Regions from separate parts of the Homo sapiens genome. Here regions 1, 2, 3, 5, 6 and 7 are each linked to region 4. Evidence: fine-mapped expression QTL. A gene starts in region 4. Each other region holds a variant in brackets. All regions are shown on one strand. Distances are from middle to middle. Region 1 has its middle 55 kb from the start of MIR3180-4. Region 2 has its middle 62 kb from the start of MIR3180-4. Region 3 holds the start of MIR1972-1 (microRNA 1972-1). Region 4 holds the start of PDXDC1 (pyridoxal dependent decarboxylase domain containing 1). Region 5 overlaps MARF1 (meiosis regulator and mRNA stability factor 1). Region 6 overlaps MPV17L-BMERB1 (MPV17L-BMERB1 readthrough). Region 7 overlaps RRN3 (RNA polymerase I transcription factor RRN3).

Region 1 (4,067 bases), 230 kb after region 4:
TAGCTTTTTGAAAGATGAGAAAGCAAGCTTCCATATGCAGCAATGAACACTGGCCAAGCCCGGCCTCTGTGTACTACCAGGGGAGAGAGGAGAAACATGAAAACAAAAATTAATATGTAGAAGGCAATGATCAAAAAGAGAGAGACAAAGGGAGTGATGTTGATGGGAGAACTGGGTTATGGAAAAGGATTTCACAAGAATCACCAAGCACATGTGGAAGGTCAGTGCCATGAACAAGGTCCCCGGACACAACCCAAGAAGGAAATATTGTGCAAAATAGATTGGAGTGCCTTCGTCAGTTCAGGCTCCTATAACAAAATACCACAGCCTGGGGCTTAAACAACAGAAGTTTCTTTCTCGGAGCTTTGGAAGCTGGAAGTCCAAGATCAGGGTGCCAGCATGGTTGGTTCCAGTGAGGGTTCATTTTACGGTGTGTAGACAGCAACTTTCTTGCTGTGTCCTCACTTGGCAGAGAGGGAGAGAGCACCAGCCTCTTTCTCTTCTTATAGGGACACTAATCCCATTGATAAGGGCTCCACCCTTGTGATTTAATTACCTCCCAAAGGCCCTACCTAATATCATCCCAGTGAGATATCATCCCGTTGGAGGTTAGGGTTTCAACACATGAATTTGTGTGGGGGACACAAACATAGCTCCATAGAAAAGAGTCTCAGAAATTGTGTCTACCCATTCAATTTTTACCATTCAATTCCATTCCCGGGAATTAGGAAGAAGCAATTAATAGGACTAATAAGAGCTGTCTGGAGGCTCTTATTGACAAGGCTGTGAGCAAAGGATACAAGGTGGGACACAAAACTGCTTTGAAAATGGAAGCAAGATAGCCTGATAGAAAAGGCACTGGGCCTTTGCCACTGTCCTCTGTGGCTTTATAAAGTTACTTAACCTCTCTGAGCCTTGGTTTGCTTCTATGTGCAACGGGAATAATATACTATCTGCCTCAAAAGGTAGTTGTGAGGATTGAGAAGATCCTGCAGGTAATATACACATCAAAGTGCCCAGCAAGATGTTAGAACAAGGAAAACAATCATAAGAAGGATGAGCATGACAATAAACTCTCCAATTGGATAAATTCAAGTTGGTTGTCTCAGGAACCATCTGTCTTGTAACTCTCTGACTTCATTTCCCACCACCCTATTATTGCCTGAATTTGCTGCATTGATCTTTTTTGTTCTTTTTTTTTTTTCTTTGAGACGGAGTCACTCTGTTACCCAGGCTGGAGTGCAGTGGCACAATCTCGGCTCACTGCAAGTTCCGCCTCCCGGGTTCACGCCATTCTCCTGCCTCAGCCTCCCGAGTAGCTGGGACTACAGGTGTCCGCCACCACGCCCGGCTAATTTTTTGTATTTTTTTAGTAGAGACAGGGTTTCACCGTGTTAGCCAGGATGGTCGTGATCTCCTGACCTCGTGATCCGCCCGCCTTGGCCTCCCAAAGTGCTGGAATTACAGGCGTGAGCCACCACGCCCGGCCGACCCTTTTTGTTCTTATTTGATCATTCCAGGAATGCTCATACCTTAGTGCCTAGGTACTGTGGGGTTCTCTCTTCCTAGAACACTTCTCAGAAAATGAGAGAATGTCTTGTTCAAGTGCTATTATATTTACTCATTGAAACCTTCCATAATTACCTACTTGAAATTA[T/A]AGCATCCACTCCACTCCTCACACTCTCTATCCTCTTTCCTTCCTGTATTTTCACATTGGTAATTATCATTTCCTAATATACAAAATCATATACACTTTTTTATTGTCTATCCCCCCTTCATTAGAATATATTCTGAAACTTAGATGAATTCTCCAGCCAAGAAAAACATCTGACACATAGTACGCATTTATCACTACGCATCGTTTTTGTTGTTGTTGTTAGAGCAACCCTGCATTTCTCTACTCTGATCCATTACATTTTAATTTTATATTTTAGCAACAGGGAATGCCTTATTTCTTTGTGGAGGTTTTTTTATTTTGTTGTTTGTTCTTCTGTTGTTTGTTTTTTTGTTTGTTTGTTTTTGAGACGGACTCTTCCTCTGTCGCCCAGGCTGGAGTGCAGTGGTACAATCTCGGCTCATTGCAAGCTCCGCCTCCCAGGTTCAGCCATTCTCCTGCCTCAGCCTCCTGAGTAGCTGGGATTACAGGTGCCCACCACCACTCCTGGCTAATTTTTTGTATTTTTAGTAGAGATGGGGTTTCACTGTGTTAGCCAGGATGGTCTCGATCTCCTGACATCATGATCTGCCTGCCTCGGTCTCTCAAAGTGCTGGGATTACAGGTTTGAGCCACCGTGCCCGGCCTAGGGCATGTCTTATTTCTATATACTCCTTCTACACCTTTTACTCTGGCATTGCAAATTCCTAGCAAAACATCCTGAAGGGTTCATGCTGAAAGGGCAACCTACTCTTCCCATACTATCTTACTGAAACTTGTTCTTACTTCAGTCTTGGAGCTGCCCATTACATGAGCCTTGCAGTGGCTTGGACATCAACCTGTGAGAAGTCGCCAGCATCCAAAATATCTGAGACTCACAGAAGACTCAGCATAAGCTCCTGTAACGACTGTATTTCCTCAACTGCAGGATCAAGGTGTGGCTGTGAATGTCACTCTCATCAGTACTCATTTTGTACTGCTTATGGTTTGTTTGTTTGTTTGTTTGTTTGTTTTCAGGGAAATGAGGTTGAGATCAAAACCAGGACCCAGCTCATGTGATTCTGTATCATAAAGAATATGGAAGTACATGTATGGAGCTCTAGTGAAATTTGCTTGGACTCAGTTAAGATGCAATGGTTTGCAAGTAGTTATAACACCTCAATTCCTGGGACAACTTCCGATTACTTTTAGAACACAGAGACACAATATGGGCATCATTTCAATATCAGATCTTATTTGTCTGAAAATACCAGATCACTAGGGCAATGAAATAAACAACCAGCTACAAACCAGCTACAAATTATCTAGAGGGTACAGCCTCCATTCTCTACAGGAAAAGAGATTCACATTCTTAGTACCAGGCCCAGCAATAAACACCTTAAATATTAATGTTATTCCATTTCATATCCACAATAAGCACTACGGCAAGGTAAATTCTATCGGCTCCATTTTATTTTTAATTGCCCAGGCTGGAATGTAGTAGTGCAATCACAACTCACTGCAGCCTCAACCTCCCAGGCTCAAGCCGTCCTCCCACCTCTCAGCCTCCCGAGTAGCTGGGATGACAGGTCCATGCCACCACACCCGGCTAATCTTTGTATTTTTTGTAGGGACAGGGTTTCACCATGTTGCCCAGTCTGCTCTCGAACTCCTGGGCTCAAGCGGTCCTCCCGCCTCGGCCTCCCAAAGTGCTAAGATTACAGGCGTGAGTCACTGTGCCCGGAGGCCCCATTTTTCAGGCAAGGAAATTAAGGCTCAGAAACACTAATATCATTGCCCAACTTCATGCATATAGCAAAAGACAGGGTTAGAAGTCATAGCTATGTCTTCCTGACTCTAGACTGTGCTTTTTCCACTACAAGGGATGAAATTGGGGAAAATAAACTGCTCAAATGAATAAAATGCTCAAATAAAAAAATACAAATAAATAAATAATTTTATATTTTAGCAACAGGGAATGCCTTCTTTGTGGGTTTTTTTTTATTTTGTTGTTGTTTTTTTTTTTTGAGACGGAGTCTTTCTCCATCTCAAAAATAAATAAATAAATAAATAAAAATAAAATGCTCAAATAAATAAAAACAAACCAATGAACAGGAGTGCTGGTAGACCTGCTTCTTTGCGACTGCTTAATGGCTTAAAGGGCCATTCATTTGGTTTTGAAGCCACCAAAGCCAGGGCAAGGTGAAACGTTTAGTCCAAATGGGTCCCTCACCCCATTTGGGAACCAATCACTGTCCCCTATAGACCTAGTTCATTGAAGGCATTTAACTGAATCCAATCATCCACATTACTAATTGACCTCCACAAGCCAACAAAAGAAAAGATCGGTTCATCCAATTAACCTTGGGACTAGCTCACCCTTGATCTCAATGCTCATCCAGATGGAGAGAAGTCCTCTGGGCCAAGATTGGGA
Region 2 (4,067 bases), 240 kb after region 4:
AGTCCAAGGTTCAGGATAAACTCCCAAAGGCCTTCTATTTATGGAGCCCACTTCCCAATTTGCCACTTGCAAATCAGGGTGTAGACAGCCCACCACTTTCTTATTAGAATTTTAAAATAAGACTGCCAACGGCAAGACGGATATTTCACTAGGGCTTTCAGTACGGCCACACCAGTTGTTCAAAACAGGGACACTCTCCCACGCCAGTCGCTCAGCAACCTCCCCTGCTACCTCACATGCCCCTCACTCTCATTATCCAGGCTTAACACCTGGCCGAGCAAGGGCCTGCGGGGCCCGCTCCAGCATCCACTCTGGTGAATCTGTGCTCATGCCCTCCCGGTGCTCAAACATTTTGAGCACGACCCTGACCACAGGCAACAACTTTCCATAATCCGTTAGTCACCAGCCAGTCTACAAACCCAGATGCCTTCCCGTGGGGAGGGGGATATTGATTGTACATACACAATGTCACACACACACACACACACACACACACACACACACACACTATATAAATACACAACTGCATGTATATGTATGTAGTTATGTATATATACAGTTATATATAACCATATAAAATATGGAAAATTTATATTTCATATTATATTCCATTAACTATATATTAAATATGTATATATACTATATATAGTTTTATACACTTAATATTTAACGTACTAAACATTTAGGACTAAAACTAAATATGTACTATATGTATGTAACTATAGTTACATATAGTACATATTTAGTACTAAATATACTATATATACTAAGTATTTACATATCTAGTATACATAAATACTATATATACCATATATATTTATATATAATAATATATAAATATTGATATAATTACATATAATATATATTTGGCACTAAATATACTATATATGTATAGATAGTATGTGTATATATAATATATACTATATATGTGTGTATATACGATATACTATATATAATACTATATATACTATAGATACTGTATTTAGTATATACTAAATTTACTAAATATATATTCAGTATATACTAAATTTACTAAATACATATTTAGTATATTTAGTATACATAAATATTTATAGTTACATATAGTACATATTTAGTACTAAATATATACTATATTTATATATTTAGTAAATATATAAATGAACATGTACTATATGTAAACACATGTAAATATATAAATGTATATATTAAATATATAAATATATAGTTACATATAGTACATAGTATATATGTAGTTATATAGAGTATATATAGACTATAAACTATAACTATATATATATATATGAACTATACACAGCCATCCCTCGGTATACACAGGGGACTGGTTCCAGGACCCCCAGGTGTACCAAAATCTGTGCCTACCCGAGACCTGCAGTCAACCTTGCAGAACTCAAGGACAGGAAAAGTAACCCTTCATCTACACAGGGGTTTTGAAGCAGTTCACATCTGTATTGTTCAAGAGTCAAATATAGATAGATAGATAGGTAGATAGACAGACAGATAGATAGATAGATACACACACGTATATAGATGCACACACATAGTTTATGTAAAGTTGGTGTGCTTGGGAGATATTTCCATGTTGCCACTTATCAATTTATCTTATCTTTTTAACAGCTACATGGCGCCCAGTAGTACGGATATACCATAATTTAGCCACTCCCTAGTTGATGAATATTTAGGTTATCCCACATTTTCTCTATCACAAAACATACTGCAATGAACACCTTGAACATATATTATTCTGCACATATATGAATATTTCCATAGGATGGATTCCAAGAAGTGGAATTGTTGCGTGTTTTTAATTTTGGCAGATCTTGACAAACCATTCCTACTTTCTCTCATACAAAAATGATGGTGACATGTGCCCCCATTTATCTGGATGGTTTGCAGGAATGAGCCCCCTCAAAGTGGTCTCTGGTCAACACAATGGGTCTCTGTGATGTACCCACCTGCATTTAGCAATCAGAGTTCACAGAGCACTTTCCAGTCTGCTTGGCACACATTCGTTCACAAAGAAGCTGAGGGAAGCTTCATTGCTGCTTCTAAAAAGCAGATTATTCCAGATCCCCGCAAAGCTTCCAGTCTGTTGAGCTACCTGAAAATGACAAGCAGCAACTTCCCTGCAGAGACCTGGAGTCAGAGTTTGGCCATCAATTGCCACCCAGACCTTGAAGCCACTCTGCTTGTCTCTAGGGCAATGTGAACTCCTGGCCATCATGCCTTGCTTAGGATGTCACCAAGTGTCCCCTGAAAAACAGCTGTCAGTCTGTCCCTCTAATCATAGGACCTCAAACCCAGCACAGAGAGCCAAATAGAAAGCAGATCCTATTCCATTCCCTTTATCTCCCTGTTTCCATTAAAAATAAAAGCCTCGGAGCATGCAAGCAGGCAGAGGAGAGGGAAGTATTGTCCACAGTCAAAGCATCTCGACCTCCAGATCAGTCAGCCA[G/A]AATGTCCTGCTACACAAGCATTTTTATTCGTTCCAGGATGTTCTTGAGGCAGCTTCCAAAAATGCACATAACATAACAAAATTGGAAAGTGCAATTAACAGACAAAGTGAGAAAAATGAAAAATATATATGAGACAAGATATAAAGACCCAACCTAAATGCCTACCAATGATAGACTGGATTAAAAAAAAAAAGTGTTATATATACACCATGGAATACTGTGCAGCCATTAAGAAAGAACGAGCTCACATCCTTTGTGGGGACATAGATGGAGCTGGAGACCACTGTCCTTAGCAAACTAACACAGGAACAGAAAACCAAATACTGCATGTTCTCACTTAGAAGCGGGAGCTAAACGATGAGAATACATAGAGGGGAACAACACACACTGGGGCCTATCAAAGGGTGGAGGGTGGGAGGAGGAAGACTCAGGAAAAATAACTAATGGGTACTAGGTTTAACACCTGGATGATGAAATAATCTGAACAACAAACCCCCATGACACAAGTTTACCTATGGAACAAACCTTCACATGTACTCCTGAACTAAAAATAAAAGTTAAAAACAAAAAAAGAAGAAGAAGAAAGAAAGAAAGACCGAGGAGAAAGAAACCTATATGAGGCATTAAGCTCTGCACAATTTTTAGGCATTTGGACTCCAACAACAGCAACAAAAAAAGGCGGATAGAGGGTTCGGGAGATGGAATTACATTTAGTGTCTATATCTACAATGTGCATGAAAATAATTCCCACATTTTGACTTTAATCACAGAGGCTGGGCATGGTGGCTTACGCCTGTAATCCCAACACTTTGGGAGGCTGAGGCGGGTGAATCACCTGAGGTCAGGAGTTTGAGACCAGCCTGACCAACATGATGAAACCCTGTCTCTACTAAATTAAAAAAAATTAGCCAGGCATGGTGGTGCATGCCTGTAATCCCAGCTACTTGGGAGACTGTGGCAGGAGAATCGCTTGAACCTGGGAAGCAGAGGTTGCAGTGAGCTGAGATCGCACCACTGCACTCCAGCCTGGGCAACAAGAGTGAGACTCTGTCTTAAAAAAAAAAAAAAAAAAAAATCACAGAGTGGAAAATAGGAAATAAAGATGGCACAACTTTCAATTTCTCAGAATGGGTCTGTTTCTCATTTGAACAGCATAAAATCCAGCCAGGCCTCCTCTCCAACCAGCAGGCCAAGACTCTTCCAAACTGACCTGACACCCCGCCATACCCAATCTTGGCACCCCACCCACTTCCCCCTCCTCAGGGTGCTGCCCAAACCAGACAAAAAGCAGGCGCCAAGATGCTCCCACAGGACTAAGGCTCATAGTGACCTTCTTAAAAAAAACAAAAAAAAAACTTAGTTGGCAACTGTTAAACATTGGGAAATTGTACATAAAAAATCCTGATCTCTCACTTTTTAAAAAAACAAGTGGAAAAGAAAAATAGGCAACATAACATCTCCCCATAGCTGGAGCTGGGGCCGCCTTGGAGGAGAAAAGGTACCTCCCATTTTGTGCACGCAGCCCACTTTCCTGACTCATGCCCATGCAAACCCCAGCTAGGCAACAAATACTTAAATTTTTTGTTTTTATTATTATTTTTTTTTAGTAGA
Region 3 (4,067 bases), 37 kb after region 4:
CTCACTGCAATCTCTGCCTCCCGGGTTCAAGTGTTTCTCCTGCCTCAACCTCCTGAATTGCTGGGATTACAGGTGCATGCCACCACATCTGGCTAATTTCTTGTATTTTTAGTAGAGACAGGGTTTCACTATGTTGGCCAGGCTGGTCTCGAACTCCTGACCTCAGGTGATCCGCCTGCCTCAGCCTCCCAAATTGCTGGGATTACAGGCATGAGCCACTGTGCCTGGCCTGAATTTTTAAATGACACATTTAAGCCAGGTGTGGTGGCACATGCCTATAGTCCCTCTACTCAGGAGACAAGCAAGATGTTGGCTTAAGCTCAGAAGTTCAATACCAGTCTGGGTAACATAGCAAGACCCCATCTCAATAAATAAATAAAAATAATTGTACTGACGTTGTAAGATTGTTGTAAAAATTAAACAAGAAAATTCATAAGATGTCACACTTAAATATCTACCTTATAGGCGGCAGAGCAACTACCACTTGCTGCTCCATTTATCTCATTCAGCATCATACTTGAAATCTAAGACAGTGCAATAAGGCAAAAAAAATAACTGACAGATTAGAAAGGAAGAAATAAAACTTTGTTTGCAGGCATGATTGTATAGATAGAAAACTAAAGAAAAGCTACTGGAACTAATGATCAAATCTAAACCATTTTCTGGATTTTTACATACTAGCAAAGAAGAATTGGAAATTGAATTTTAAATGTCATTTATAATAGGATCAAAAAAGATGAAAAATTTATGGATAAATTTAACAAAATATATGCAAGATCTGTACATTGAGAACTAAGAATGTTACTGAGAGAAATTCAAGAAGACCCAAGAACGATATGCCATACACACGGGTTGGAAGACTAAGTATTAAGTCAGTTCTTCCCAAACTAATCTGTAGATTCAACTTGATCCATCTTAAAATCTCAGCAGGCTACAATTTCTTAATAGAACTTGATGAGCTAATTCTAAAGTTTATATAGAAATACAAGGGATCTAGGAACAGCCCAAGGGATTTTGAAAAAGAACAAAATTGGAAGACTTACCTTGTCATACTTCAAGACTTCTGTAAAGTAGCAAGTAAGACTGTGTGAGATTAACCAAAGAAAATAGAGAATTCAGAAATAGACTCATGTGAAGTATATGGACACTTCAGGTTTTTACAGATGCCTGAGTAATTCGAGGGAGAAAGGACCATCTTTTTCCATCAGTGGTCTTAGAGCTTGGATATCCATATGGAAAAAAACTGAATCTTAACCCTTATCTTATTCTCTGTATATATAAATATTAACTATAAATGGTTCATCAACCTAAGCATAGATCTAAGACAATAAAATGTCTCAAAGAAAATACAGGAGATCTTTGTGACCTTAGGTTACATTTCTTAGGATACAAAATATGTGAACCATAAATTGTACTTTATCAAAAATTAAAAGCATTAGCTGTTTGAAAGCCCCTATTAAGAAGATGAAAGGCAAGTTACAGACTGGGAGAAATATTTGCAAAACATTTTTTTCTTTTTTTTTTTTTTTTTTTGTCTTTTTCTATTTTTATTTTTTATGTTTTTGAGATGGAGTTTTGCTGTGCTGCCCAGGCTGGAGTGCAGTGGTGCGACCTTGGCTCACTGCAACCTCCGCCTCCCAGGTTCAAGCGATTCGCCTGCCTCAGCCTCCCGAGTAGCTGGGATTACAGGCGCACGCCACCGTGCCGGGCTAATTTTTGTATTTTTAGTAGAGACGAGATTTCGCCATGTTGGCCAGGCTGGTCTCAAACTCCTGACCTCAGGTGGTCCACCTGCCTTGGCCTCCCAAAGTGATGGGATTACAGGCGTGAGC[C/T]GCCACACTCAGCCAGCCACTGTCCCAGTCCTGTCTTCTTTTAAAATTTCTTTTTCATTCTTTTCCCCAGAAGCTACAAAACATTTGTTTGACAAAGAACTTGTATCTAAAATATATAAAGAACTGTTACAACTCAATAAGGACACAAGCAATACAATTTTTTTTTTTTTTGGAGATGGAGTCTCATTCTGTTGCCCAGACTAGAGTGCAGTGGTGCGATCTTGGCTCACTGCAACCTCTGCCTCCCGGGTTCCAGTGATTCTTCTGCCTTAGCCTCCCGAGTACCTGGGATTACAGGCATGTGCCACCACACCTAGCTAGTTTTTTGTATTTTTAGTGGAGATGGAGTTTCACCGTGTTGGCCAGGCTGGTCTTGAACTCCTGACCTTAGGTGATCTGCCTGCCTTGGCCTCCCAAAGTGCTGGGATTACAGGTGTGAGCCACTGTGCCCGGCCCACAATACAATTTTTTAAATGAACAACAGATTTGAGCAGATACTTCATCAAAGAAAATGAAAATGTATAGCACTTGAAAAGATGTTTAACATCATTAGTCATTAGTGAAATGCAAATTAAGATCACCATGAGACATTACTACATGTCTGTTAGAATGGAGAAATTACAGGTGGCTCACACTTGTAATCCCAACACTTGGGAAGGCTGAGACTGCGAGATCAATTGCCCTCAGGTGTTCGAGACCAGCCTGGGCAACATGGCGAAACCCCTAGGAAATCTCTACAAAAAATACTAAACATTAGCCAGGTGTGGTGGTGTGTACCTGTAGTCCCAGCTACTCCAGAGGCTTTGGTGGGAGGTTGGCTTGAACCCAGGAGAGAGAGGTTGCAGTGAGCCAAGATTGTGCTACCATACCCCAGCCTGGGTGACAGAGCCAGATCCTTTCTTAAAAAAAAAAAAAAAAAATTCTTTAAAATATAATGTCAGGCCAGGCACAGTGACTCAAGCCTGTAATCCCAGCACTTTGGGAGGCCGAGGCGGGCAGATTACGAGGTCAGGAGATCAAGACATCCTGGCTAACATGGTGAAACCCCGTTTCCACTAAAAATACAAAAAAATAGCTGGGTGTGGTGGTGGGCACCTGTAGTCCTAGCTACTTGGGAGGCCGAGGCAGGAGAATGGCATGAACTCGGGAGGCAGAGGTTGCAGTGAGGTGAGATCGCACCACTGCACTCCAGCCTTGGTGACAGAGTGAGACTCTGTTTCTGTAAAAAATAAATAAGTAAATAAATAAAACTTGCCAGGTGTGGTGGTGGGCACCTGTAGTCCCAGCTACTTGAGAGGCTGAGGCAGGAGAATGGCTTGAACCCGGGAGGCGGAGCTTGCAATGAGCCGAGATTGTGCTACTGCACTTCAGCCTGGGCGACAGAGTGAGACCCTATCTCAAAAAAAAAAGAAAAAAAAAAAAAAAGGCAAAAAACTACAGTGACAGAAGCAGATCAGGATTTTCCAGGGCCAGTGAGGAGTCAGGGAAAGGGTAATTATATTGGGGTTGATGGGATTTGGGGGTTGATGGAAGTATTCTGAATCTTGATTGTGTTGATGGTTACATGCTCTATATATTTGTCAAAACTCATTGGACCGTATACTTACATGAGTGAGTTTTGTTGCATGTAAATCATACTACAATAGGCCGAGCATGAGAGCTCATGCCTGTAGTCCCAGCACTTTGGGAGGCTGAGGCAGGCAGATCACAAGGTCAGGAGTTCAAGACCAGCCTGACCAATGTGGTAAAACCCCATCTCTACTAAAAATGCAAAAATTAGCCAGGTGTGGTGGTGTGCACCTGTAGTCCCAGCTACTTGGGAGGCTGAGGCAGGAAAATCGCTTGAACCTGGGAGGTGGAGGTTGCAGTGAGCCAAGATCGCACCACCGCACTGTAGCCTGGGCGACAGAAAGGGTCTCTGTCTCAAAAAAAAAAAAAAAAAAAAAAATCATACTACAATAAAACTGCTTATTTAGGCCGGGTGCGGTGGCTCATGCATGTAATTCCAGCACTTTGAGAGGCCAAGGCGGGAAGATCACCTGAGGTCAGGAGTTCAAGACCAGCCTGGCCAAAATGGCGAAACCCTGTCTCTACTAAAAATATAAAAATTAGCTGGTTGTGGTGGCAGGCACCTGTAATCCCAGCTACTTAGGAGGCCGAGGCAGGAGAATAGCTTGAACCCAGGAGGCTGAGATTGCAGTGAGCCGAGATTGCGCTGCTGCACTCCGGCCTGGG
Region 4 (4,067 bases):
GACTTTAGTAAAATTTACTAGTTTTGAATGATACCCATGCTGAGGTGCTCAGAGGTGAAATGTACTAACATATATCGATGGATGGATATATGGATGCATATGTGATTAAAGCAAATATAGGGAAAATTAACTGTAGAATCTAGGTAGTGGGTATATGGTTGTTCACTGTACAACTGTTTAAACTTTTCTACGTTTGAAAAATTTCATAACACGTTGGAAAAGTGACTTGTTTTGCTCAAGCAGGGGTACATTCAATCTTCAATTCTTGAAAGACATAAATCTATCTTTCCTTCTGTTTGGAAAGCTCTTTAGAGAGTCAGAATAATCCCCACAGTACAGTCTAAACCAGCACACAAGGGTTTTTTGGTAGAAAATAATTTTATTAACATAACCAGGCAATTTACCAAATACAACGTAGATAGCTCAAAACATGGAGTTACTGCGCTGAAAATGTGACCCTGTTTACACAGATTTCGGGACGAAGAGTATAAAACAGGAGAGAAAAGGAGTAAGATTGTGGTTGTAGCGTCATCGCAGAGGTGAAGTGTTCCATTGATTGCCACTGTGGTAGTCTATATCAGTTTCCCACATTAAGGTGGGAGGAATCTACTAAGCAAATGTACGCCCTCCCCATTCGTTCGAAACACATTGCAGTAAAATTGCAAAAGTGGCCGGGCGTGGTAGCTCATGCCTGTAATCCCAGCACTTGGGGAAGCTGAGACGGGAAGATCGCCTGAGGCCAGGAGTTTGAAGCCAGCTTGGGTAACATAGTGAGACACCCCTACCTTCTCTATTAAAATGAGATTTTAATTTTTTTTCTCTTCAGTTCATCGGTTAACAAGATAAAAAAATTAATAAAAAATTAACTTTTTAAAACATTTAAAGTAAAGTAGGAGTGGAAGCAGTATGTGGACTCATGGGGCTTGGGTCTGAATCCTACCTAGATCGGCACTGCGAAATGGGGATAATGATCTCCTAGAGCTGCTGAAATAGGAAAATGGAAGAACAGCAGCTGATGTATTAATATTATCATTATTACTACTACCCATTACCTGACAAGTGATAATTGTGACATGAAAGAGGCTGGACCGGTTGTTACAACAATTTTTTCCGTCTAGAATTCGGCGGTAAGGTCTGAGACAACACCTCAGCTTAGATCAGTGCCTTCTCTGAACAGCGTTCACTAAGCAGCCCCCAACCCCAAAACCCCCAAGTCCCCGGGCGCCGAGGACGCTGCGAGTCCTGCGCATGCGCAAGGTTGCCCACTCGCTCACCGCCTCCTTGGCGAATGGCCTGTTCCATTCTCGAGGGATGCCGGCGGGAGGTGAGGCGGGAGACTTGGAAGCCTGGGCCCGGAAGTGAGGTGCGTCACTAGTATTTCCAGCCTTTCACTCCATGAATAGTACTTTGTGATTATTATACTTCTACCTTGATGATTGCAACAGGCTGCTGGAAAGAGTTTGGTGAACAATCCACCGGGCATCCTCCCCCCTTCACCTGCGCACGTTAGGGAGGGCCGGCGTGGCGCCCAGGTACGGAATCCCAGAGGGCTCCGCCCAGCGCTACGGGGCCCCGCCCCGCCGCCTCTCAACCATCAGGTTCGGCAGCCCGCGGCGCCGCCTGGCAGCTCCTCCTCTTCTCCGCCCCGCCGGCCGCGGGCGCGGGGGACGTCAGCGCTGCCAGCGTGGAAGGAGCTGCGGGGCGCGGGAGGAGGAAGTAGAGCCCGGGACCGCCAGGCCACCACCGGCCGCCTCAGCCATGGACGCGTCCCTGGAGAAGGTCCGTGCCGGGAGGGGGCGATGGGGACGGTGCTGCGGCCCGGGGCTCCCGCTTCCGAGGCAACTGTTTCCCAGTCGCGAGCTGCCATTGTGACCCGGACAGGGGGACGCGGGCTGACAGGCCCTGCCTGAGGAGGCCTCGCCGGGAGGGCGGCTGGGGCCCGGGCGCGTCACGGGGCCGGGTGTCTCTTGGGTCCCCGTGGGCCGAAGAGGCTGGGCGGGGTTCGGTGGGGGCCGCGACGGGCCCGGAGCCCAGGACTGGGACCGCGGGGCCGACCTTGGGCCCTGCCGAGGTTCCGCGAGTGGCCGGCCTGAGCTCGGCTGGCCCTTTCGGAGGACCGGGAGCTCTCCGTTGGCGGCCCCAGATGCTCCCGGAAAGAAGCCGCAGTTATTTCAGAGCCAGCTGCAAACCTGTAGGTTTTTCTTGGTCTCCGAGTTAGGAATGAAAATTGCCAAAGCAGTGGTTTTCCAACTTCAGCCTGAGTGGGAATCACCTGGGGCCTTTGGTAAAATGCGGAGGTTCAGTCCCGGGGTCAGAACCTCTGGGGGCGGGACCGGGAACTGCGTGTTTAACCGCCACCGCCCCGCTCCCACTCCGCCCCACGCAGGTGATTCTGATGCTGAGCCTGCGATCACCGGGCGAGAACCTCTGAGTTCCAGAAAGGGGTGGGTGTTGCGTAGATTGCGAATTGAGTTTTGGGGATCGCAGCTGCTCCACAACTTCCTGGCTCCCCCATTCCAGTGGCGAGGAGGGATCCCCGAGTCAACTCGAAATCCACTGGTAACAGAGCCTACCTCTGGTTTCCCCTTGGGGGAACGGCAGCGTGGTGTACCAGGCTGACTGCTCTACCATGTGAAACGGATTCTCATTGTCCCAGTGTTAGGGCTTGTAAATGGAAACCAGTTTGGGTTTCTTCACGGATTCCTGCTTTCGGTACCTGACATTCTGCCCTCCCTCAAAGCCCTTCTGTCTGTTCCAGCTTGGGAGTCTGCTTGTCCAATCCAGTGCATACCCGGTTTTTCATGCATGTGGCATTCAGGAGCAATGCTCGTGTTTTAAGACGGCTACATTTTAATTTTGAGCTGGTAGGAATAATATATTTTGTCTTTTTTCAAGGCAGCAGCTGCTGTAGATTTTGTTCACTTGTCACTGGAGAGTTGAAGGCAATAATTGTAAAGGTTGGGCCAGATGTCTTCATGTGCTCACAGTGGTATAGCCTACTCCTGGGTTGCTTAGCATAAATTGGGTGGAAGACAAGAAAAAGATAATATGGTTTTCTTGTGCCATCTCTGGGGTGAATGTTACGTGTTTTCCTGGCTGGGAATAAAGTCTTTCCGGTCGTCTGATTAGCAGGGTGTCTACCTTTTGGTACTTTGAGTTTGTCCAGATGAGTGGTTCTTAAAGCAGGGGGCAATTTATTTCCCCAGGAGACATTTGGCTATCTCTGGACATAGTTTTGATTGTCACAATGGGGGCAGGGAGGTGCTGCCGGTACCTAGTGGGTAGAGGCCAGGGACGCCTCTAAACATCCTACGTTGCACAGGACAGCCCCCCACGCTGGAGAATTCTCTGGCCCAAAATGTCAGCAGTGTTGAGGCTGAGAAATCCTGGTCAAGATCATGTTTATAACACCAGCAGTTGAGTACAAAACGATGCAAAGTGGTGTTATCAATTTCCTAAGAAGGTGGGTGGGCTTCATGTGATTGTAATTGGAATCCTGAAGAACTGGGGTGATCTTTCCTCCAGGAATAATTAGCCTTTATAGGAAAATCTGCAGGGTGGGTCAGAATCCTGCTTTAAATATTACTTTTCTGGCATTTGATCAGTAGGTTACAGTAGTTGCTCCCTAAGTGTTAATTGATGATAAAAGATCTTAAACTCTCTCAATGAGGATCGCAAGAGGGACTGAAATTCCAGTGTGTTTAATATTGGAGCATTCACAAAAATTGTAGTGATCTTTTAGGAATTCAGAACGTGTGGGCTGGAGGTTTCTGCCTTAGGTCAATGTGAAAATTCTGAGTGTAAGTTTTTCAGAACTATGGGACTTACTTTTTTTTTTTTTTTTTTTTTTTTTTTTGAGAGGGAGTCTCGGTCTCTTGCCCAGGCTGGAGTGCAGTGAGGCGATCTCGGATCCCTGCAACCTCCGCCTCCCGGATTCAAGTGATTCTCCTGCCTCAGCCTCCCGAGCAGCTGTGACTACAGGCGTGTGACACCACACCCGACTAATTTTTGTATTCCCAGTAGAGATGGGGTTTCACCACGTTGGTCAGGATGGTCTCAAACGCCTG
Region 5 (4,067 bases), 630 kb after region 4:
CATCCTCCTGTGTTCAATTTCACTGCAGACACCCATCTCCAGGGTCACAGTGCAAACCTGTCATTACCCCATCCAACATAAATCATTCAAACCTCCTGAGCATCCCACTTGCAAAAGCAAGTCTGGAGCTGCTGTTGGGGTGGGAGTGCAGAAAGAGACTCTACCCGCTCAACTCCGCCCCTTCTCAAACCTCAGCAGCATCACTGCCTCCTATCTGCTCCCAATTTGCCAGCCCACTCCCTTGCTTCACTCTCCTCTTTTGTCATGCTGGCACTGACATTCTTGTCAATATTTAAATTCGCTCATCCCATGCCTTTTCCTGACGCCCATCGGTAAACTCCCACCTTGAATCCAACCACCTGCTTTCCCTGAACCGACACCTGCATAGCCACACCCCAACTGCTGCTCTCCCAGAGTCTACGGTGCCAACTTGCAGTGAGCTCTCGATACCCCTGCACTCCACGTGACATCCTGATCAAGCCACTCTCCACTCACCATGACAACTGTGGACCTTCTCCCCACTCCTAAGTCCTGAGCCCTGCCTCTCCTCTCTCTCTCTAAGCAGAGATCAGTCCCTCTCTCTAGTGGAAAACCACTCTTGGAAGAGGACTCCCTTCTATTCCTGATGATAAACATCAGACCTGCCCATGCCTGCCCCCAGCCTATTGCCCTGTATACTTCCTCCTTCCTCTGTGTGCTGTTTCCTAGTCTCCCACACCTCAAGGCCCTCCTGTCTTACCCCTTCTCGCCCTTGTATGTTCATCTTCTCTCTCTAGACAGATCCACATCAATGGCTTTCAGACATGCTCAAGTTTTTCCAGGTAGGAAAACCAACAGCCCAAATCCTCCCTTGCTCCCTCAGCCCCACAGCCTCTAGCTGCTGCCACAGCCCTCCATCTTCACAAGCAGACAAACCAGGATGCTGTCCAGATGACCTGGGCCATTTTCTCACCTCTCCTCACTCCTCACCACACTCCAAGGTGGCTTCTGTCTACACAACCAACACTGCCACTGACCTGGCCAGCAGCACCGACTCTTCCCACTGAGCTAAACCTGGAAGTCAGGCAGTCCCTCTCTGACCAGCCCTCCTGCGATGCTGCTGGCCATTCCTCTGCCTTGGCTCAGGGATGTTCGGCTCTCCTGGTTGTGCTTCCTGCTCTCTCACCTCCTCCTCCAACCAATCAGTACCTAAGGAGAGCTCTGAGCGTTCCTACCTCTGCCAAGGTAAGAACGTCTTCTTAGCTGCAGTCCAATACATTAAAAAACAGTGGGGGCTGGGTGCAGTGGCTCATGCCTGTAATCCCAGCACTCTGGGAGGCTGAGGTGGGCGGATTACCTGAGGCCAGGAGTTCGAGATCAGCCTGGCCAACACGGTGAAGCCCTGTCTCTACTAAAAATACAAAAACTAGCTGGGCGTAGTGGCGGGCGCCTGTAATCCCAGCTACCCAGGAGGCTGAGGAAGAAGAATCTCTTGAACCTGGGAGGCGGAGGTTGCAGTGAGCCAAGATCGCACCACTGCACTCTAGCCTGGGCCACAGAGCAAGACTCCAACTCCAAAAAAACCCCACAGTGGGAAGGAAAGGGAGAGTGAACCCGTTCTGGCTGTTTACGGAATTAAATGACACAGAAATGTGTGCAGCTAGTAATGGGCCTGTAACTGAGGGTGCCGTCCTTCATGCTTCCCTTTCCATTCCTTCCTCCTGGCAGTGACTTCTTCTGGTCCTGTGGGGGAGGAGGCCGAAAACTGGCAGCTGCTCTGCCTAGGACAGGAAGGGTCAAGTGCAGTCCAGGACAGCAAACAGCACGAGCTGCCCTCTCTACTACAGCTCTGCCAGTGACAAAGGCCACTCTGCACCCTCGCTTGCTCCTAAGCCTACTCCTAAGTGGGTGAGAATGTGGAGGGAGAGGACACTGTGTGATTACGGGCTCCCAAGAACGTCACAGGCAAAACTCACACTGGAAGGAGTCAAGCTCAGGCCAGCAGTGCTGAGGCAGCTGCACCTCATGACCGAACCCTGGGGTGAAGAGTGACCTCATCAGTTCACAAAGGCATTGCTTTGGCAAGGCCATTCAGAAACACACAAGAGGAAGACCAAAACTCTCAACTTCCAAACCAAGGCTTCTATTACCTAATAAGCACTAATGACACAAAACGAGTCATAATGCTGTGACAGTTAAGTAGTTCAAGGTGTAAATAAAGAAACGCTACAGCACACGCAAACGTCCTAATGAGAATTAGGTCACTGTGAGTTTTATCCCATGAGG[G/GA]AAAAAAAAAAAAAAAAAAAAAAACATTTACCTTCACGACATGGCAGAGTTTCTGAGTTAAAGCCGAAATGGAACTGACATCATAGTCTTGGAGACGAAATGTATAACCAAAAGTTTTAGCATATTCTGTAAGGAGATCTGTCATCATAAGGCAGTTATCTTTTTGGGACCGAAGGAGTTTAACAAACTGGGCAGCTAGAGCTTTGAACCGCTCCACCTCTGTCAGAGTAAGGATCTTTTCTTCTCCACATTCCAATACCTTTGAAAACACACGGGGGGAGGAAAGGGAAAATAAACAAATCACGGGTGTTTACAGAATAGCAAAAAAAGTATGCAGCTAGTAATGAAAAAACAAGTCAGCGTTACTGAATGGGTATAAAGTTTCAGTTGTGTAAGATGAAAAAGTTCAGAAGATCGGTTGCATAACAATGTGAATGTGCTGACCACTACTGGACAGGAGATATAAAGATAGTTACGAAGGTAAGTTCTATGTTATGTGTATTGTGCCACAATAAAACAATTTTTAAAAAGCACTTCAGTAGTAAAAAAAGAAAATAAAATCAACAACAGAAATTTGGTTTAACTTAGCAACAGCGAACAGCTTAGCACTGATGTTACCTCATGTACTCAGACCTACCTTCAACACGAAGGATTTTAAAAGTATAAAAGTAATGAACAAATATTCAGTGTAAGAAATCAGCAGGTGTGGTGGCTCACGCCTGTAATCCCAGCACTCTGGGAGGCTGAGACAGGCGGATCAACTGAGGTCAGGAGCTCAAGACCAGCCTGGCCAACGTGGTGAAACACCATCTCTACTAAAAATAGAAAAATTAGCTGGGCATGGTGGCGGGCACCTGTAATCCCCAGCTACTCGGGAGGTTGAGGCAAGTGAACTGCTTGAACCCGCAGGCGGAGGTTGCAGTGAGCCAAGATTGCGCCATTGCACTCCAGCCTGGGCGACAAGAAAGAAACTCCGTCTCAAAAAACAAAAACAAACAAACAAAAAAAAGAAAACCTACTGAATCTTTTTTTCAATAATTACCCCCAAAACAAGTTTGAATAATCCTTTATTGAAGGAAAAAGCCATATTTATCTAAAAATACTAATGAGTCAGGAATATGGCTTCTCTGACTGGAATAGCTTAGATTTTCATCCTCTTTCGTAACTCCCTACTTCCCAGAAAAACAGGTCTGGAACGTGAAAAAGTATTTCCTATACGTTGTTCAGAAAAATACTTTATAAAATTAGAATTTCTTCACTCACTTGTAAAGTATCAGGTATGGCTTCAAAAAGTTCAAGTAGTTTGGTAAACCCATAGTACGCAAGTTTGCACTGCCGGCCAAAGTGGTGATGGTAAGAAGGGATAAATTTATTAAAGGGCATCCGGAAATGGGGTTGGTGACGCAGCAAATCAACGACATCCTTGGAGAACTGTTTTGTCCTTTCTATTTCATCCTGAGTGCGTTCTTTTAAAAAAACCAAAAAACATAAAATCACAGTTTTTTTCTACCCATTTGTGTTCAACATCCACACTAGAGTAAATCCTTTTGGGAATTTATAAACGATATCATCCTTGCCTTCCAAACACACACAACCTAAAACAAACACATATACTCTTCCCTCTTTGCAAGTGGTTCTCAAACATGTTCCAGGGCAGAACACCAGGAAGTTATGATATTATTATATTATGAAATTCATATATATTCATCTTATAAGCTAGAAACAATGTCATCTTATAAGCTAGAAACAATTTTCTAGCCCCTGCCCCATATCTATTAACATGACACACACCCAGGTCCCTG
Region 6 (4,067 bases), 470 kb after region 4:
AGTTGTGAGATAAAAAGGATGGTTAAGCAGGACCACTAGACTTTGGTGGATTAAAAAAGGACTGGCAATATGGGGCCATTGGAGGACAAGGGATGGAGGGAAAGAAGTAGCATTTATTTATTTATTTATTTTTGAGACAGAGTCTTGCTGTTGTCTCCCAGGCTAGAGTGCAGTGGCGTGATCACGGCTCACTTCAACCTCCACCTCCTGGGTTCAAGCGATTGTCCTGCCTCAGCCTCCTGAGTAGCCGGAATTACAGGTACCCGCCACCATGCCCAGCTAATTTTTGTACTTTTAGTAGAGATGGGGTTTCACCCTGTTGGCCAGGCTGGTCTCAAACTCCTGACCTCAGGTGATCTGCCTGCCTTGGCCTGCCAACGCGCTGGGATTACAGACATGAGCCACTGCGCCTGGCCGGAAGTAGCATTTTAGGAAGGCTTGTCTGGCAATGGTGACCAACTGGATGCAAAGTCAGGGGCCCTGGGGATAAGAAGGTCAGCTAGGAGGGTTTGGAATTATCCCATGATGAGGGCTGTATGTCCAAATATCCATGGCAGGGCTGGAGTCTGCAGGAGCAGTGGGTTTGAAAGAAGGGGCTGATCAGAAATCTTGAAGGGAGAAACCCATAGTAGTTATTATGTCTCAGAAGGAAAGAAGGTCTTCTAAGTGCTCTCAATGTGATAGGCAAGGAAAAACCCTGTCATTAGCCTGAGGTCTTAACCAGTTAAAAATATCAGCATCCAGGCGCAGTGGCTTACGCCTGTATTTGCAGCACTTTGGGAGGCCCACGCGGGTGGGTCACTTGAGTTCAGGGGTTCAAGACCAGCCTGGGAAACGTGGCGAAATCCCATCTACCAAAAATATAAAAATTAGCTGGGCATGGTGGTGCAAGCCTGTAATTCCAGCTACTCAGGAGGCTGAGGCATGAGAATCGCTTGAACCTGGGAGGCAGAGGTTGCAGTGAGCTGACATCGCACTACTGCATTCAAGCCTAGGCGACAGAGCAAGAATCTGTCTCAAAAAAAACTGAAAAAACAAAGAGTTGTTCCTGATGCTGCCGTGAGATTAGCATCCTCGCCTTCTGCTTTGAGGGAAAGATGTGAGATTTTCAGATCAGATACAAAGTAACAGGAATAGGTACCATGAATGGGAACCGGCAGCCAAGTGACAGTGTTGTGATGGGTATAGGCTGGGCTAGGTACTTTACACACCTTAAATTTTTGATTCTTAGATGCCAGCATAGGTGAGGTATAACATTTCAGAGTAAGTCACGTCTTTCTGAAACAACAGAAACAAAAAAACGATAAGGCCCCGTTAAATAACTGGTCCGTTTAGCACTACCTGCAATAGCAAAGATGTGGAATCAACCTAGGTGCCTATTGACAGTGGATTGGATAAAGAAAATATGGTACATATATACCGTGGAATACCACCAGCTAGCAAAAAAAGTAAAACTATGGTCTTTGCAGCAACATGGATGCAGCTGGAGGCCATTATCCTAAGTGAACTAATGCGTGTTCTCACTTATAAGTAGAAGCTAAACATTGGGTACAAATGGACACAAAGGTGGGAACAGCAGACACTGGGGACTACAAGAGGGAGGAAGGAGGGAGGGAAGAGTTGAAACACTACCTGTTAGGTACTTTGCTCATTATCTGGCTGATGGTTTCACCCAGACCCCAGATCTCAGCATCATGAAATACACCCTTGTAACAAACCTGCACATGTACCTCCTTAGTCTAAAATAAAAGTTGAATTTTTTTTCTTTTTCTTTAATTTTTTTTTTTTAAGAGAGGGAGTCTCGCTCTGTCGCCCATGCTGGAGTGCAATGGTGTGATCTCAGCTCAATGCAACCTCTGCCTCCCAGGTTCAAGCGATTCTCCTGCCTCAGCCTGCTGAGTAGCTGGGACTACAGGTGCACACCAACACACCTGGCTAATTTTTGTATTTTTACTAGAGACAAGCTTTCACCATATTGGTCAGACTGGTCTCGAACTCCTGACTTCAGGTGATCCACCCATCTCGGCCTCCCAAAGTGCTGGGATTACAGGCATGAACCACTGCACCCAGCCTACTTTATTTTTAATCTCCATCTAGTATTTAGACTAGAGATGGGCAAATTTTTCTTTTTTGTTTTCTTTAAAATTTTTTTTTTTTTGGTAGAGATGGGGTCTCACTATGTTGCCCAGGCTGGTCTTGAACTCCTGGCCTCAAGTGATCTTCCTGCCTTGACCTCCCAAAGTGCTGGGATTACAGGTGTGTGTCATCACACCCAGCCCTGATACACTTTTTCTGTACAAGG[A/C]TAGATACTATTTTAGGGTGTGCAGGTCATATGGCCCCTGTTGCGACCACTCAGCTCTACCACCGTACTCCAAAGCTGTAGCCTAAAGCTGCCATAGACAGGCACCTAAGTGAATGGATGTGGCTATGTTTTGTTTCAGCTTGATTGGTGAGCACTGAAATTTGAATTTTATATAACTTTCCCATGTCATAAAATATTATTATTCTTTTGATGTTTTCCCACAGCCATTTGAAAATGTAGAGGTCATCTCAAAAAAGAAAAAAAAGGAAAAGAAAATGTAGAAGTCATCCTTAGCTCAAGGGCCATAGAGAAACTGGCATTGGTCTGGGTTTGGTCTGAAGGCTCATGGATCCCTACCCTAGACAAATAATAGGCATGTAAAAGGTATTCACATCACAGCTGGCTTTTTTTTTGAAACAGAGTCTTGCTCTATTGTTCAGGCTGGAGTTCAGTGGCATGATCTTGGCTCACTGCAGCCTCCACCTCCTGGGCTCAAGCAATCCTCCTGCCTCAGCCTCCCGAGTAGCCGGGATTACAGGCACAAGCCACCATGCCTGGCTAATTGTTGTATTTTTAGTAGAGATGGGGTTTTACCATGTTGTTGAGGCTGATCTCGAACTCCTGGGTTCACAGGATTCATCTGCCTCAGCCTCCCAAAGTGCTGGGATTACAGGCATGACCCACCACGCCCGGCCATAGCTGGCTTTTTGCTTGCTGTGGGAGGAGAAAGTTCTGGCTGCTTGGCTTCGATGCTATGCTTGGCTCTTCCAACCACCATTTGTGGCTTTTTGCTGCCAGAGCTTGTCATGCTGCTGCATTGCCCAAGAGAAAAAGTTTGTGAGGTTCCACGTTCCATCATATCGATGATCATTTTAGGGTTTTCACACACAAGAGACAGGATTATTGCAAGCAACAGCAATGAACTTTGGAAAACTCAGAGGTTTTCCAAGTGTGAGATTTAAAGCCTCATGCATGAAACTTTAAATTAGTTTAAGGGGGCGTAACCAGCATAAAAAAAATGAAATAGAAGGAAATAGGAAATAGAAAGCTGCATCTATGCTGCTAAAGTTAAGTCTTATTTCCGTGCAACCTTTCGTTTGTTTGTTTTGTTTGTTCGTTTTCTGAGACAGAGTCTCCCTCTCTGGAGCGAGTCTCACCCAGGCTGGAGTACAGTGGTGTGATCTCTGCTACTGCAGTCCCTACCTTCCGTGTTCAAACGATTCTCCTGCCTCAGCCTCTTGAGTAGCTGGGACCACAGGTGCATGCCACTATGCCCAGCTAATTTTTAGTAGAGATGGGGTTTCACTGTATTGACCAAGCTGGTCTCAAACTCCTCACCTCAAGTGATCCACCCATCTCAGCCTCCCAAAGTGCTGAGATTACAGGCATGAGCCACCATGCCCGGCCTATTTTGTCCAACGTTTGTTTTACTTATGCCTATGTGTGTATGTACATACTGGGTCACTCTTAGTATTTCTTTTTTTTTTTTTTTTTTTTTTTTGAGACAGGAGCTCACTCTGTTACCGAGGCCAGAGTGCAGTGGTGCAATCATGGCTCACTGAAGCCTTGAATTCCTGGGCTTAAGCGATTCTCCCACCTCAGTCTCCTGAGAAGCTGGGACTACAGGTGGGTGTCACCACACCCAGCTAGCTAACTAATTTTTTTTTTTTTTTTTTTTTTTGTAGAGACAGGGTCTTACTTTAGTGCCCAGACTGGTCTTGGACTCCTGGGCTCAAGTGAGCCTCCTGCCTCAGCCTCCCAAAGT
Region 7 (4,067 bases), 96 kb after region 4:
GAGCTGCTTGAAATTATTATTAAAAGTTTGAGTGCACATGCAGTTTTCTGAATCCAGTTTTTATAAAAATCTCAAAAAAGTAATGAATCACCATTCTGAAGGGTGACAAGAACACAAGGAAAATCCAGTCCAGCACTCCCACAACACTGACCTTCTTTCAGGTTTCCGCTCAAAAGCTGCTTGTGTCTAAAAACAAAGGTGTAGAACACAGCTTGGCAGGCTGAGTAAAATGGTCCATGGAGAGCAACATCGCAGAATGCCTTTGTTCCCGAATCCTGGTTATTAAGGTATATGTGCAGCCAGTTAACCAAAAGATCTAGGCATGATTTTACAGTACTAGAGAAAAGAAAAATTCAAGTCAACTTTACACATCATAAAAAAACCAGAATAACATAAAAACACACAACTGCCTTTCATTACAAACCATGCTAAGTAAGTTCATAGGTTTCTTTAAATAATACCCATGGGTACAGAGGAAAAGCAAAGAAAGGAAGGATAAGGATGGGTGCGTAGGAAGACAACCTTCCAATTACAAGGCAGAGTAGCTCTGACCTTCTAGGAACAGGTGAGCCCCTAAGAACGTCCCAAGGGATGGAAAGCAGGTTCTCCTAACCATCTCAAAGGCACCCCTCTTAAGGTGATTGGCCAAACAGGACACGTTCACCAACACCTCTCAAGAGAAAGACAGTCTGGTGGACTTCAGTATTCCCTGATGCATCCTAGTCAAGTCCTATGGTGAATAATTTTGTGGTTGGGGAAGGGTTTCAACAGCATCCTTGTCCAAAGGTATCTTTATGGGCCACTGGAAGAAACTGGCCTCCTAGATAGGTCTATTACCTTTAAAAGGGTTTTTCTTCAGCTTTAACAGATACAATAGATTTGGAATGCAAATGAAAAAATGACAAACCTACAAAAAGAATCAAAACAGTATACAACACTGTCCTCTATCCACAAAACAAATGGATCTTTAAGTGCAACCAAAAGAGATGACAAAAGCCTTACATACAGGGTTTTATATATAAAAAAGGAGACACTTTATTCTAAAATCACCACTTAGAAATATAAACATCTTGCACAGAGTAGGGATTTTATTCACTTTAAAAACATGCCAAAAAAAATGGGAGATATTTCTGACTTGAGACAATGCTATACTCTTTTTAAAGCATGATATTAAAAAGTATTCGGAAAATTAGGCTACTTACATAAGAGGAATAAATTTAGCTCTTGCCAAAAAGCTTCCAATATAATTTCCAGCAGCCTGCCTGATGATGGCAGGATTACTTGGGTCCTGCAATTTTTTCCAGAGATGTTCCAAAAATGCCTCTGCGAATCCCTATAAAAAGAGAGGGCGTCGGTGTGATCTTTTTTAATGCCTAAGATAATCTGGCTATCAAAATCCCAAGATTTTTACTTCACCAATGTAGGGAAAAGTTCTACTATCTCATAACTATCTCATGGGCTTCATTTTTAAAACACATTGAGAGAATATCATTAAAAACAAAAGGCACCTCGGGTGTTAAATAATCCAGTGGATCCCAAACCTAGCTAAGCATCACAATCAACCCGGGGCCAGGCACAGTGGCTCACGCCTGTAATCCCAGCACTTTGGGAGGCCGAGGCGGGTGGATCACCCAAGGTCAGGAGCTCGAGACCAGCCTGGCCAACATGGAGAAACCCTGTCTCTACTAAAAATACAAAAATTAGCCAGGCATGGTGGCAGGTGCCTGTAATCCCAGCTACTTGGGAGGCTGAGGCAGGAGAATCGCTTGAACCCAGGAGGCAGAGGTTGCAGTGAGCTGAGATCATGCCACTACACTCCAGCCTGGGTGACAGAGTGAGACTCCATCTCAAAAAACAAACAAACAAAAAACAACAAAAAATTCAACCTGGGAGGTACAAATTCAATAGGTTTGTGACAGGGCTTTGGAATCCACATATTACAAAAACTCTTCAAGTGATTCCAATGTCAGCCAGAACTGGTGACCAACAATAATTCACATCCCATGGAGCTCCACATGGGCACTCCTGTGAGTGCAAAGCACCTTCCGGTCTCTGGACACACTGAACTCAACCACGAACAGAAATACGGACTAACGCACAGCTGGTATTTGAGTTAATTATGCCAATCATGGAAAAAAACAGACACAGCTTCTCACCAAAGGGTGTAACTTCCAACTTCTCCTAAATAGCGCTGTTCTAAAGCTAGGCACACCCATGTGGGCAGACTGAATTCAACCTTCTTTCCCATGACCAACACTCTCCTGATCTCTAGGAAGCCACAAAATCGTTGCAGAGAAGGAAAAGCCTTCTACATTCTTTCCCCCAC[C/CA]AAAAAAAAAAAAAAAAGAAGAAGAAGAAGAAAAGACAAAGCCTAAAGTTTTTAAAATTCTAGATTAATAAGTTGGTTTGGGCTAGTTACAACTCAACCCTTGGAAAGAATAAAGGAAATACAGTTAATTACCCCATATGAGATTTTAATAGAGAAAGGCTTAAGGGAAGAGCACCACCTAGTGACCAAAAGGCAGGATGACATTTTCGGAGCACCTAGCTGGGCTGGCAGGCAGCAATCTGTTTTCTCTCCAAGTGTACTGAGAAGGGAACGTGGGCCAGGCACAGTTGTTCACACCTGTAATCCCAACGCTTTGCGGGGCAGGAGGCGGGCAGATCACTTGTGGTCAGGAGTTCAAGACCAGTATGGCCAACGTGGCGAAACCCCACCTCTTCTAAAAATACAAAAATTAGCCAGGCATGGTAACCTGTGGTCCCAGCTATCGAGAGGGTAAGGACTGAGAGTCCGTTGAGCCCAAGAGGTGGAGGTTGCAGCAGTGGGCAGCAGAGCGAGACTGTGTCTCAAAAAAGAAAGGAAAAGAAAACAAAAAAAGAAAGGAGAATGCGATTTTATTAAGCAGACTAGCAAGTAAGCTCAAAGAAAAGAATTATTTACTTCATGGTCTCCGTCCACCCCAGTTTTTAGGGAAAATTTTTGGGCAAAAACAAAGTAAGCTAAGATAATGTTAATCACATTCTTACTCACCAATTTGAAACTACAGAGGTAAAACATGAAAAACTGTACATGGCAGGAGGCATGGGTGGGCAACAGGAGTTTGTCAAAGATGTTTATCAGGTCGCGATATAGATCCTTTGTTTTGCCGTTATCAACCTTACCTATGGAGAAAATCTGGCATCTCAGTTTTTATAAAGACATATTTTCAAGTTTCATCTGCCATATTTTTTATAAACACAACACCATTAAAAAACAACATTATCCAGCCAAGCACAGTGGCTCCTGCCTGCAATCCCAGCACTTTGGGAGGCCAAAGTGAGAGGGAGCCCGGGAGTTCAAGGGCAGCCTGGGGAACACAGGGAAGCTCTGTCTCTACAAAAAATCAAAAAATTAGCCAGGCATGGTGGCACGCCTGTGATCCCAGCTACATGGGAGGCTGAGGCGGATGAACCGCTTGAGCCCAGGAGGTCAAGGCTGCAGTAAGCCATGTTTGTGCGACTGCATTCCAGCCTGGGTTAGAGTAAGACCGTGGCTATTTAAAAAAAAAAGAAAGACAGACATTATCCATTAAAATACCATTAAAACAAAATGCTACTTTTAGTTTACACAGATTTTCCTCTGAATATAATAATCTAACACCTGCAAGGAAGCAGGCCCTCACCTCACACACTGTGGCAAGGTCAGAAATGCAAACCCTTCTGAAGAGCAATTCTATCATTCGTGTAGCAAAAGACCTCTAATCCGATCATTTTACTGTTAGTAAACAGCTGAATATATAGGCACAAGTATGTTCATTATAACTGTTACTTATCATGGTGAAAACAGTAAAAGACAGTTAAACCCATGTGACCAACAACATTTATTATTACGACTTTTTTTTTTAGAGATGGGGTCTTGTTATGTTGCCCAGGATAGTTAGTCTTGAACTCCTGGCCTCAGTGATCCTCCCACCTTGGCCTAAGTGCTGGGATTCAATAACAATTATTTTAAAACAGGCAATGATATGAGAAAATGTTTATCTTCAGCATCCATGTAAAGGGCAGATTATGAAACACTTGTGTTTAGT

The links. PIP is the estimated chance that this variant, and not a neighbour inherited with it, causes the effect.
Region 1: its variant is fine-mapped to the expression of PDXDC1 in whole blood (INTERVAL, PIP 0.90).
Region 2: its variant is fine-mapped to the expression of PDXDC1 in atrial appendage (GTEx, PIP 0.98).
Region 3: its variant is fine-mapped to the expression of PDXDC1 in whole blood (TOPMed, PIP 0.99).
Region 5: its variant is fine-mapped to the expression of PDXDC1 in whole blood (INTERVAL, PIP 0.95).
Region 6: its variant is fine-mapped to the expression of PDXDC1 in whole blood (TOPMed, PIP 0.92).
Region 7: its variant is fine-mapped to the expression of PDXDC1 in whole blood (INTERVAL, PIP above 0.99).

What each region holds. Positions count from the first base shown.
Region 1 is chr16:15,207,534-15,211,600 of GRCh38, forward strand. No RefSeq gene overlaps it. Among named protein-coding and RNA genes, the nearest start is that of MIR3180-4, 55 kb to the left of the region's middle. The variant T/A (reference allele first, on the strand shown) is at 1,658.
Region 2 is chr16:15,215,343-15,219,409 of GRCh38, forward strand. No RefSeq gene overlaps it. Among named protein-coding and RNA genes, the nearest start is that of MIR3180-4, 62 kb to the left of the region's middle. The variant G/A (reference allele first, on the strand shown) is at 2,456.
Region 3 is chr16:15,010,118-15,014,184 of GRCh38, forward strand. The region is part of intron 8 of PDXDC1 (pyridoxal dependent decarboxylase domain containing 1); the gene reads left to right. It overlaps MIR1972-1 (microRNA 1972-1), which reads right to left and starts at 280; the gene lies at 204-280. RefSeq lists a silencer at 2,893-2,998. The variant C/T (reference allele first, on the strand shown) is at 1,833.
Region 4 is chr16:14,973,442-14,977,508 of GRCh38, forward strand. PDXDC1 (pyridoxal dependent decarboxylase domain containing 1) reads left to right here and starts at 1,585. Exons shown (of 23, transcript NM_015027.4): 1 at 1,585-1,779. The coding sequence starts at 1,759. RefSeq lists a silencer at 451-745 and an enhancer at 903-1,666.
Region 5 is chr16:15,605,995-15,610,061 of GRCh38, forward strand. MARF1 (meiosis regulator and mRNA stability factor 1) reads right to left here. Exons shown (of 27, transcript NM_014647.4): 20 at 3,529-3,731; 21 at 2,297-2,524. Among named protein-coding and RNA genes, the nearest start is that of MIR6506, 3.1 kb to the right of the region's middle. The variant G/GA (reference allele first, on the strand shown) is at 2,266.
Region 6 is chr16:15,447,774-15,451,840 of GRCh38, forward strand. The region is part of intron 1 of MPV17L-BMERB1 (MPV17L-BMERB1 readthrough); the gene reads left to right. All of the region lies in intron 1 of BMERB1 (bMERB domain containing 1), which reads left to right. Among named protein-coding and RNA genes, the nearest start is that of BMERB1, 15 kb to the left of the region's middle. The variant A/C (reference allele first, on the strand shown) is at 2,303.
Region 7 is chr16:15,069,919-15,073,985 of GRCh38, forward strand. RRN3 (RNA polymerase I transcription factor RRN3) reads right to left here. Exons shown (of 18, transcript NM_018427.5): 12 at 3,032-3,162; 13 at 1,203-1,333; 14 at 152-336. It also overlaps a transcript of PDXDC1 not described here. Among named protein-coding and RNA genes, the nearest start is that of NTAN1, 16 kb to the left of the region's middle. The variant C/CA (reference allele first, on the strand shown) is at 2,327.